Homo sapiens: one gene and its partner. The protein of the gene in region 1 purifies or fractionates together with the protein of each later gene. This does not show direct contact. Each region holds a gene or a part of one and is shown in the gene's direction. Other genes may lie near its edges.

Region 1 (3,652 bases):
TTTTATTGGAATTTGATGGAGAAGAATACTTAGTTTCTCAGAAAATATGAGGAGTTAACACCTTGTATGGATTATCTACTTGATAACCAAAAGGAGAAGAGATTCCAAAAGCATGAAATGGGTTAATGTTGGCAAGGTAGGTAGGCTTTTACATTTTATAATTACTTCCTTATGATGCTTCCATGGGAACACAAAAGGCTAGATAGGCAGATAATCTATGAATTATATAAAACCAGAGTGGTGGTTAGTATAAGGAAAAAAGTCCCGAATTTTTTGGTAGCCAAGAATCACAAACTACAGTTTTCAAAATACCAATATTAAAAGATTTGACTGTTGCTATGGTCTTGGGTGTGATAAAATATTCTTTTTTTTTTTGAGACAGAGTCTCGCTCTGTTGCCCAGGCTGGAGTGCAGTGGTGCCATCTCGGCTCACTGCAAGCTCCGCCTCCCGGGTTCACGCCATTCTCCTGCCTCAACCTCCCAAGTAGCTGGGACTACAGGCATCTGCCACCACGTCCCGCTAGTTTTTTTTGTATTTTTAGTAGAGACGGGGTTTCACCGTGTTAGCCAGGATGGTCTCGATCTCCTGACCTCGTGATCTGGCTGCCTCGGCCTCCCAAAGTGCTGGGATTACAGGCGTGAGCCACTGCACCCGGCCACAAAATATTCTTTGTTTTTGCAGATAGAGAAAATATGGGGAATTCTTAGGATGATAAGGGTGTAGACCACTGTGTCACCAGGTCTTGCTAGAAGAACAGAGCTCACAGGCACGTTGCCCCACACAGTAGGATTCTGGGGCTTTTGTCACAGCCTGAGCCTCACAGATACCAGATATTGGCCAAGAGTTCCCAGATGGTTTGGAATCAACATTATTTGCCTTACAGTTTTGTATGTTTATGACGCATGTTAATGTATGAAATGTGGACTGGGAGTCCAAAAGAAGTTACAATTAACCATAAAGTCCTAGGTAAAAAAGGTTAAAATAGCTTACCACTGAGCAGTTTCATTCAGTCTTTACAAAAATAAATGTGTTCATTGGGGCATTCAGAGTGTAACTGTTTTCTCTCATGTTCAGCTAATAGATTTCTGGTTGAACCTTTGTTATCTTTTGGAGTAGACAGAAAGAGTTCTCCATGGAGTGTCTGATTACTTTGCTGAGTGTGCAGAGAGTTCACTTCCTCCCAGTGCAAAGCTCCGGAGAAATGCTCTGAAAGAAATGTAGGTGCAATGTGTTTCCTTTTTCTCATTTTTGCCTGTCTCTATGTATGGATAGATAACATGAAGTCCAGAATTAAACAGAGTGCCTGGAACTGAAGCACAAACTCCCCTCCGTCACGTACTTACTCTCCCCTCCCTCCTGACTCTCTTGCTTTCTGGACAATAGGGATAGAATCCTTGCTTCACAGGTGTGTTGCAAGGAGTAATTAATGACACGTTCTTTGAAGATGAAAAGCACCTGTTGGTGGTGTGTTTCATACCACTTTCGGAGGGACTACAGACAGATCTAGAAAAAAAAAAATTCCTTTCCTAGGATCCTTGTTCCGACTTTAATATAATTACGATAATCCTCATGCTCCTGGTGTCAACAGTAAGAACATGAATATTACATGTATTTGTTTTCACACTGAAGCTAGCCGAAATAAATATTTCAGCTTTCAATGTTTTGGTGGTTGAGGAAATTTCTTGCCATTCACAAACCTGTAAATATATGCTGAAGTTAACATCTTTAGTCTCTAATTCTCCCTGTGCAGCTTCTATCCTGCCCCTCAAAGTTCACTTTATCATCAGAGTGAAGTTACATTGTCTGTTGTGCACGCTGTAAGGAGCAAGGGGCTTATATACAGCTATATCGACACTCTTTTGTCTTCCACGATTGTATTTTATTGCCTTTCATGCTGACTATCTGAAATTTCTTCCAGGACATTTCAAATTATATTAACTAAGTCCTACTCCCATTTGTTGATCAAGTTTGGTCAACAAACCTGATACCAGCTAAATGGTGGTTATATTTGGGTAACATCTTGAAATAGCCTGAGAGAAATTCCAGAAGATTTTTCTTTACTCACAAGTAGAAATTGTGTGTATGTGTACATTTGTGTACACAGAGCCTGAGTCTACTCCTGGAAAAAAAAAATCAGTATATAGGCAGTACTGACCCTTAACATTGGAAATGAATACCTATTTACCTTAGTTAAAATGTGAACGCCATCATAAATCCATTTTTAACCCAATGATTGATAAGCAGTATCATGTATAATGGAATATGTGAAGGTTTTTGCTTGATTCAGTCTGCATTTAAACATACACCTGTGGTGGGGAGTGTTTCCAGATTTGCTGGGGAAGCGAGAGGGCAGGTAGTGCCTGCCTCCTTTTTCAGGTGTAGGAAATGTGGTAGAGGGAATCTGGAGGAAACAGTGCAGTGACAGCTTTACAAACCATAAAATCATTTTTGTTTGTTTCAGTGTGAAAAGAACTGAAACAAAAAGCAGTGTCACGAGCAAATCGCAGACCAGAAGAGACACTGTGGAAACATCTAGTGACTCAGTGATTGCAGAGATAGCAAGGAGGAGGAATGATGGTCAGGCTTCCTCCAGTCCCCCATCAGAATCCATGGGACAAGCAAAGGATTCCATAAAGGCAGCTGAGAGCCACTGGGGGCTTCCTGTTCAAAAGCTGGAAAAAGTTAATCAGACCCAGCCAGAAGACACTAGTGGCCAGCAAAAACCTCATCCTGGGGAGCGGTTAAAGACAGGGCTTCTAAGCAGGAGCCCCGTCTGTAGCTGTGAGTCAGCATCACCATGTCCAAAACAAAGTCCACGAGTGGCCAAAACCCAACAGAAACGCAGGAACTGCAGCTCTGCGGAAGACTTCGACCACCACGGGAGAGTTTCTCTTGGAAGTGATCGATTAGTCCCGAGAGAAATAATAGTGGAAAAAAGCAAAGCTGTCAGGGTTTTGCCAGCTTCAGAGTTGTCAGATCCAGGGTTACTTTTGAAACAAGATTTGGCAAAAACCACGTCTAAGGAAGAGTTGCATGTTTTGGAAAGTCTCTCCTCCAGACATCTTATGAAAAATAACCCAGGGCAGGCACAGCAAACCGGCTTAGCCACAAACACTGAAAGATTATCTACAATTCAGAACAGCCCAACCAAGAAAAGAAAGAAATACGAAAGAGGCCATTAACACCGAAGAGGTTTGTACCGTTGGAGTTGAGGACATAGTGGCCAAACCTGTGACAAGAGAGCTGCGAATATAGATGCCGGGATTTTAAAGGAATTAATTAGAATGACTAATTTAAATAGGAAGTGTGTTATCTGTGTTATGGCTATGGTTTGTTTTCAAAGCATTTCAAACCGGGAGGCTATATGCTTGTTCTAACAGCGTTGCTTCTTTATCATTGTATTTTATGACTGTCTTCAGAGAATTAGTAATGACAAAGAGCCATCCACCTTGTCAGGGAGGAGACTGTGCAAGGACTGCATGAAGAAACTGATCATGAGCCCCTTCTTGGCACATCACTGTGCAGACCACACAATGGACCGTGCAAAGACAGTGCTGCCGTGCTGCCTTTCAGCTCCAGGGGTACAATCCATCCCCCTGCTCCTCAGCCTGAGTAGGAGGGCAGTGAAAGAACAAGCTAGTGGTTCTTAGC
Region 2 (3,652 bases), on another chromosome or scaffold:
GGGGCAGATCTTCACTTCCATGAGGAAGCCACATTTTGAATTCAGAGATGGGGGCCCCTTCTCCTTGGGAGTCAGGTTGCCTCCTTTGACAGAACCCCTACATACCCCTTGTGCCGCTAGCCCCAGCTTGACTGTACCCTCCTCCTGCCCCTAGTAGGGGCCCTCTTCCTTGGCTTCAGCCTTGCCCAGCTGCCAGAGGGTGGGAGCAGGACAGGCCTGGGCCCATCAGTTGCTGCAGCTGCTGCACAGGCTCCCAAGCCCCTGGGCAAAGACTGGGATGGGCCCCAACAGGCAGGGAGTGTGGCAGCGTGCCGAGGGGGAGAGGTGGGGCAGGCCCGTTGGGATCTGCTCCCCAAAGACAGGCCCTAGCCCTCACTCATGGGCCTGGAATTGGGGAGTGGAGGGAGGGAAGAACACACCCAGGAAAGGCAAGTCCCAGAGCCAGGTGTATATATCTTAGTGGGGGATTTTGGGGAATAGCAAGCAGTTCAGTTCTGTATTCTTCCCATGATAGAAGGTGACTAGGAGGCATCAGGGGCTCTGCTACTCTCCCTGCTTTCCTGTTCAACCCTGGTTCCTGGAACACACCCTGCATTCTCAGCAGCCACCTCCCCACAGGAATCATGCTCACATGGTCCCCTCTGCACGGAGCCCTCTGCCAAGCCAGATCCTTTTCTCCATCCTTGGAAGTCTGCAGTGGAGAGAAATCATTCTATAACTGAACAGCTCGTTTGACTGATGGGAAACTGAAGTCCCAGAGACGATTTCTGGGCCTAGCCTGCTTTCTCTAGAAAGTATTTTCAAGTCTGCTGCTGAGCACCTGTGGACTGGCATCTTTGACCGTTCATCCTACACACTGCAACAGAGATCATACCTTGCCTGTGTAGTCTTTTCTCCCCAACAGAAACTAAGCATCTGAATGCCAGGGACCATATCTTCGACTTTCTCCAGGTTTCCTTAGGTAGTGGTGCTGTGTTAAGCACAAAACAGATGCTCAGAAAATATCTGTTGAGTAATTAAATAAACAAGAATGGATCTGCTCAGCCAAGATCTTGCTGCATCTCATTACTCGTTATCTTCTCTACTCAGAAGGGAGCCCATCAAAGGGAGACTGTGACCCCTGGCACATCAGGAAAGGGCAGTCAGGAAAGCTTGGGAATCCCTGGTTTTGACCTGGGGGAGTAGAGTGTGACACTTTTCTCTTCTCAGGCACCTGTATCAAGTGCAACAAAGGCATCTATGGGCAGAGCAATGCCTGCCAGGCCCTGGACAGCCTCTACCACACCCAGTGCTTTGTTTGCTGCTCTTGTGGTGAGTGTAGCCCCAATACTCAAGCACTCCCCTCCCCTGCCCACATACACACTTACAAGTGCTATGGGGAACAGGAGGAGAGCTTGTGCCTCTTCATTTGCTCACAGAGCAGCTGTTGGATCCCCACCAAGTGTCTGGAGGTCCGCAGCTGCTCTGCCTCTCTTGCTTCCCTGTCTGTCCTCTACTTGGCTCTCCCTCCGCCTGGTGGGTCCCCTTTCTGGAGTCCCTCCTTCCTTCCTCACCTCTGTTTCTCCCTCTCGTGCTTCCCTGCTTGCCCATCCTGGACTTGCCTGGCCCTCCAGCTTCTTGGTGGGGCTTGGTCTTGGGCAGCCAAGTTGCCTGGGGCGACAGTGAAAGACTGGAATGTGGGGAGGGTGGGGGCAGGCTGGGGGAGTGGGGAGCTGTTTGGGGCGGAGAGGGGGGTTTTCTCTTGGCTGGTCAGAGTTCAGCCACCTCACTGGAGTGCAGGCCACCGGGCCATGCCAAGCTGATGACATCACGCTCCAGGAATGCCTGCCACTGTTAGCTCAGGAGGCCCACTTGGAAAGGGGGGATGCTCCCAGCGGCCTTAACTGCCCCCCTCCCCTCCCTCATTACCCCCTCCTTACTGCTTACCCATTCTGATTCCTTTGCTAAACCTTTAATCTCCTATCTCTGCCTGTCTGACTTCAGCACTCAGCTTTTCTCACTCCCCCAGTTTCTGCCTGGTTCTCTTTAGGCTCATCTGTCTGTCTATCCTTCTGTTTACAGGGCCTCTTCTGGCTATATCTCTTTCCCTATCTTTCCTCCCCTGTGTCTCATGAGCTTCTAAGTCAGCTTTCCTAACCCACTGGACAGAGTTGGAAGTAGGGATTTTGAGGGGAAGAAGGCAAAGGTGGGAAAATTGCTCATGCTCCACCTGTTCTCACTCCTTCCCTATCCCTGATAATGTAGACACCTGGGAGCAGTTCCTGGGGGTTGGTCACATGGGGAATTGTCCTGCCTTGTCTGCTGGAAGAAGATCCTGGGTTGTCTCTTACCCCAGTGACTCTGGGTCCCTCTAAGCTTAGGGAAGCAGCCTTATACAAACAGGAGAGGGGACCTGCTTTGCTTCCAAACAAAGCACTTTGTCCTTCTGCAGTAACTCCAGTCCTGACCTCCATGGAGTCTGTCCCTGGAAGGAGACAGGCATTTGAGAGCAGGATAGATATGCTCAGGCAAAGAGGCTTCTAGGTTGAAGGGTCCCAGAGGGAAAGGCCTGTTAACAATGTGGTTCTCTCTATGCAAATCATATAGCACCTTATTAAGAGCTCACGTATTCCAGCACGTAGTTGGCTTTACTCTCCCAGGTGGCTTCCTATGCACTGGAGAGGAAGGCAGTTTGTTTAGGGGAGGGGCCCTAGAAAACTGTTAAGGAGGCAGGAGCTGGAGGAGCAGCAAGCAGAGGAGAGGGGAAGTTGGCTGGAATGAAGCCAAAGCAAATTGGAATTGCATCAGATGGAATTTTTGTGCGGGGAAGGACAGACAGCAGTTAGGAGGAAAAGCACAAAGTCCAGGTTTAAATATATTATGCAGCAGCGGGGAGCAGTGACCCCAGAAGTCTTGCACCTGGGCTGTGGGATAGGTTCCAGCCCCTTCTCTATTGTTTCTAGGGCGAACTTTGCGTTGCAAGGCTTTCTACAGTGTCAATGGCTCTGTGTACTGTGAGGAAGATTATCTGGTGAGTAAGGGTCACCTGGACCTGGAATTGGTTTCCATACTGACCCCCTTCTTGGTGGCCCATTGGAGTACCACCCATCATTCTCAGTTTGATAACAGCCTCCGTTCGTCTTGTCTTTTACTTTAGTTTTCAGGGTTTCAGGAGGCAGCTGAGAAATGCTGTGTCTGTGGTCACTTGATTTTGGAGAAGGTAAGTAAAGTGCTTTCAGCTGAGAAGTCTCACTGTGAGGCTGAGGAGCGGGATCAGGGACTAAATGGATATTGAGAGAAGGTTGGGGAAAGAAGCCTGTCACCAGATGAATCACTTTCATCCCATTCCTCCCCAGAGCAACTGTTTACAGTGGCTTCCCTCTGCCTATGGGATCAAGTCTGGGCTCAAAAGCCTGTCAACCCAGGCTTCTATGACCTAGCCCCTCCCTAACTCTGCAGGCACAGCCAGGCCTTCCAGCCTGAGCTAGGAGTGTGGGGTCCTGAGTCTTTTTTTTTTTTTTTTTTTTGAGACAGAGTCTCGCTCTGACAAAGTGGAATGATCTCGGCTCACTGCAACCTCCGCCTCCCAGGTTCAAGTGATTCTAGTGCCTCAGCCTCCCAAGTAGCTAGGACTACAGGCATGCGCCACCATGCCTGGCTAATTTTTGTATGT

The links. The genes of interacting proteins can lie anywhere in the genome.
Region 2: the proteins of SLX4IP (region 1) and AJUBA purify together in Homo sapiens (affinity purification with mass spectrometry; 2 studies listed by BioGRID and IntAct, with this or other methods). This does not show direct contact.

What each region holds. Positions count from the first base shown.
Region 1 is NC_000020.11:10,620,197-10,623,848, forward strand, and holds part of SLX4IP (protein SLX4IP), read left to right. Parts: intron 1-1,117; coding exon 1,118-1,218; intron 1,219-2,462; coding exon 2,463-3,183; 3' UTR 3,184-3,652.
Region 2 is NC_000014.9:22,976,003-22,979,654, reverse strand, and holds part of AJUBA (LIM domain-containing protein ajuba), read left to right. Parts: intron 1-433; exon of another isoform or gene 434-618; coding exon of another isoform or gene 619-722; exon of another isoform or gene 723-1,048; intron 1,049-1,209; coding exon 1,210-1,311; intron 1,312-1,553; exon of another isoform or gene 1,554-1,828; intron 1,829-2,812; exon of another isoform or gene 2,813-2,942; coding exon 2,943-3,010; intron 3,011-3,136; coding exon 3,137-3,199; intron 3,200-3,652.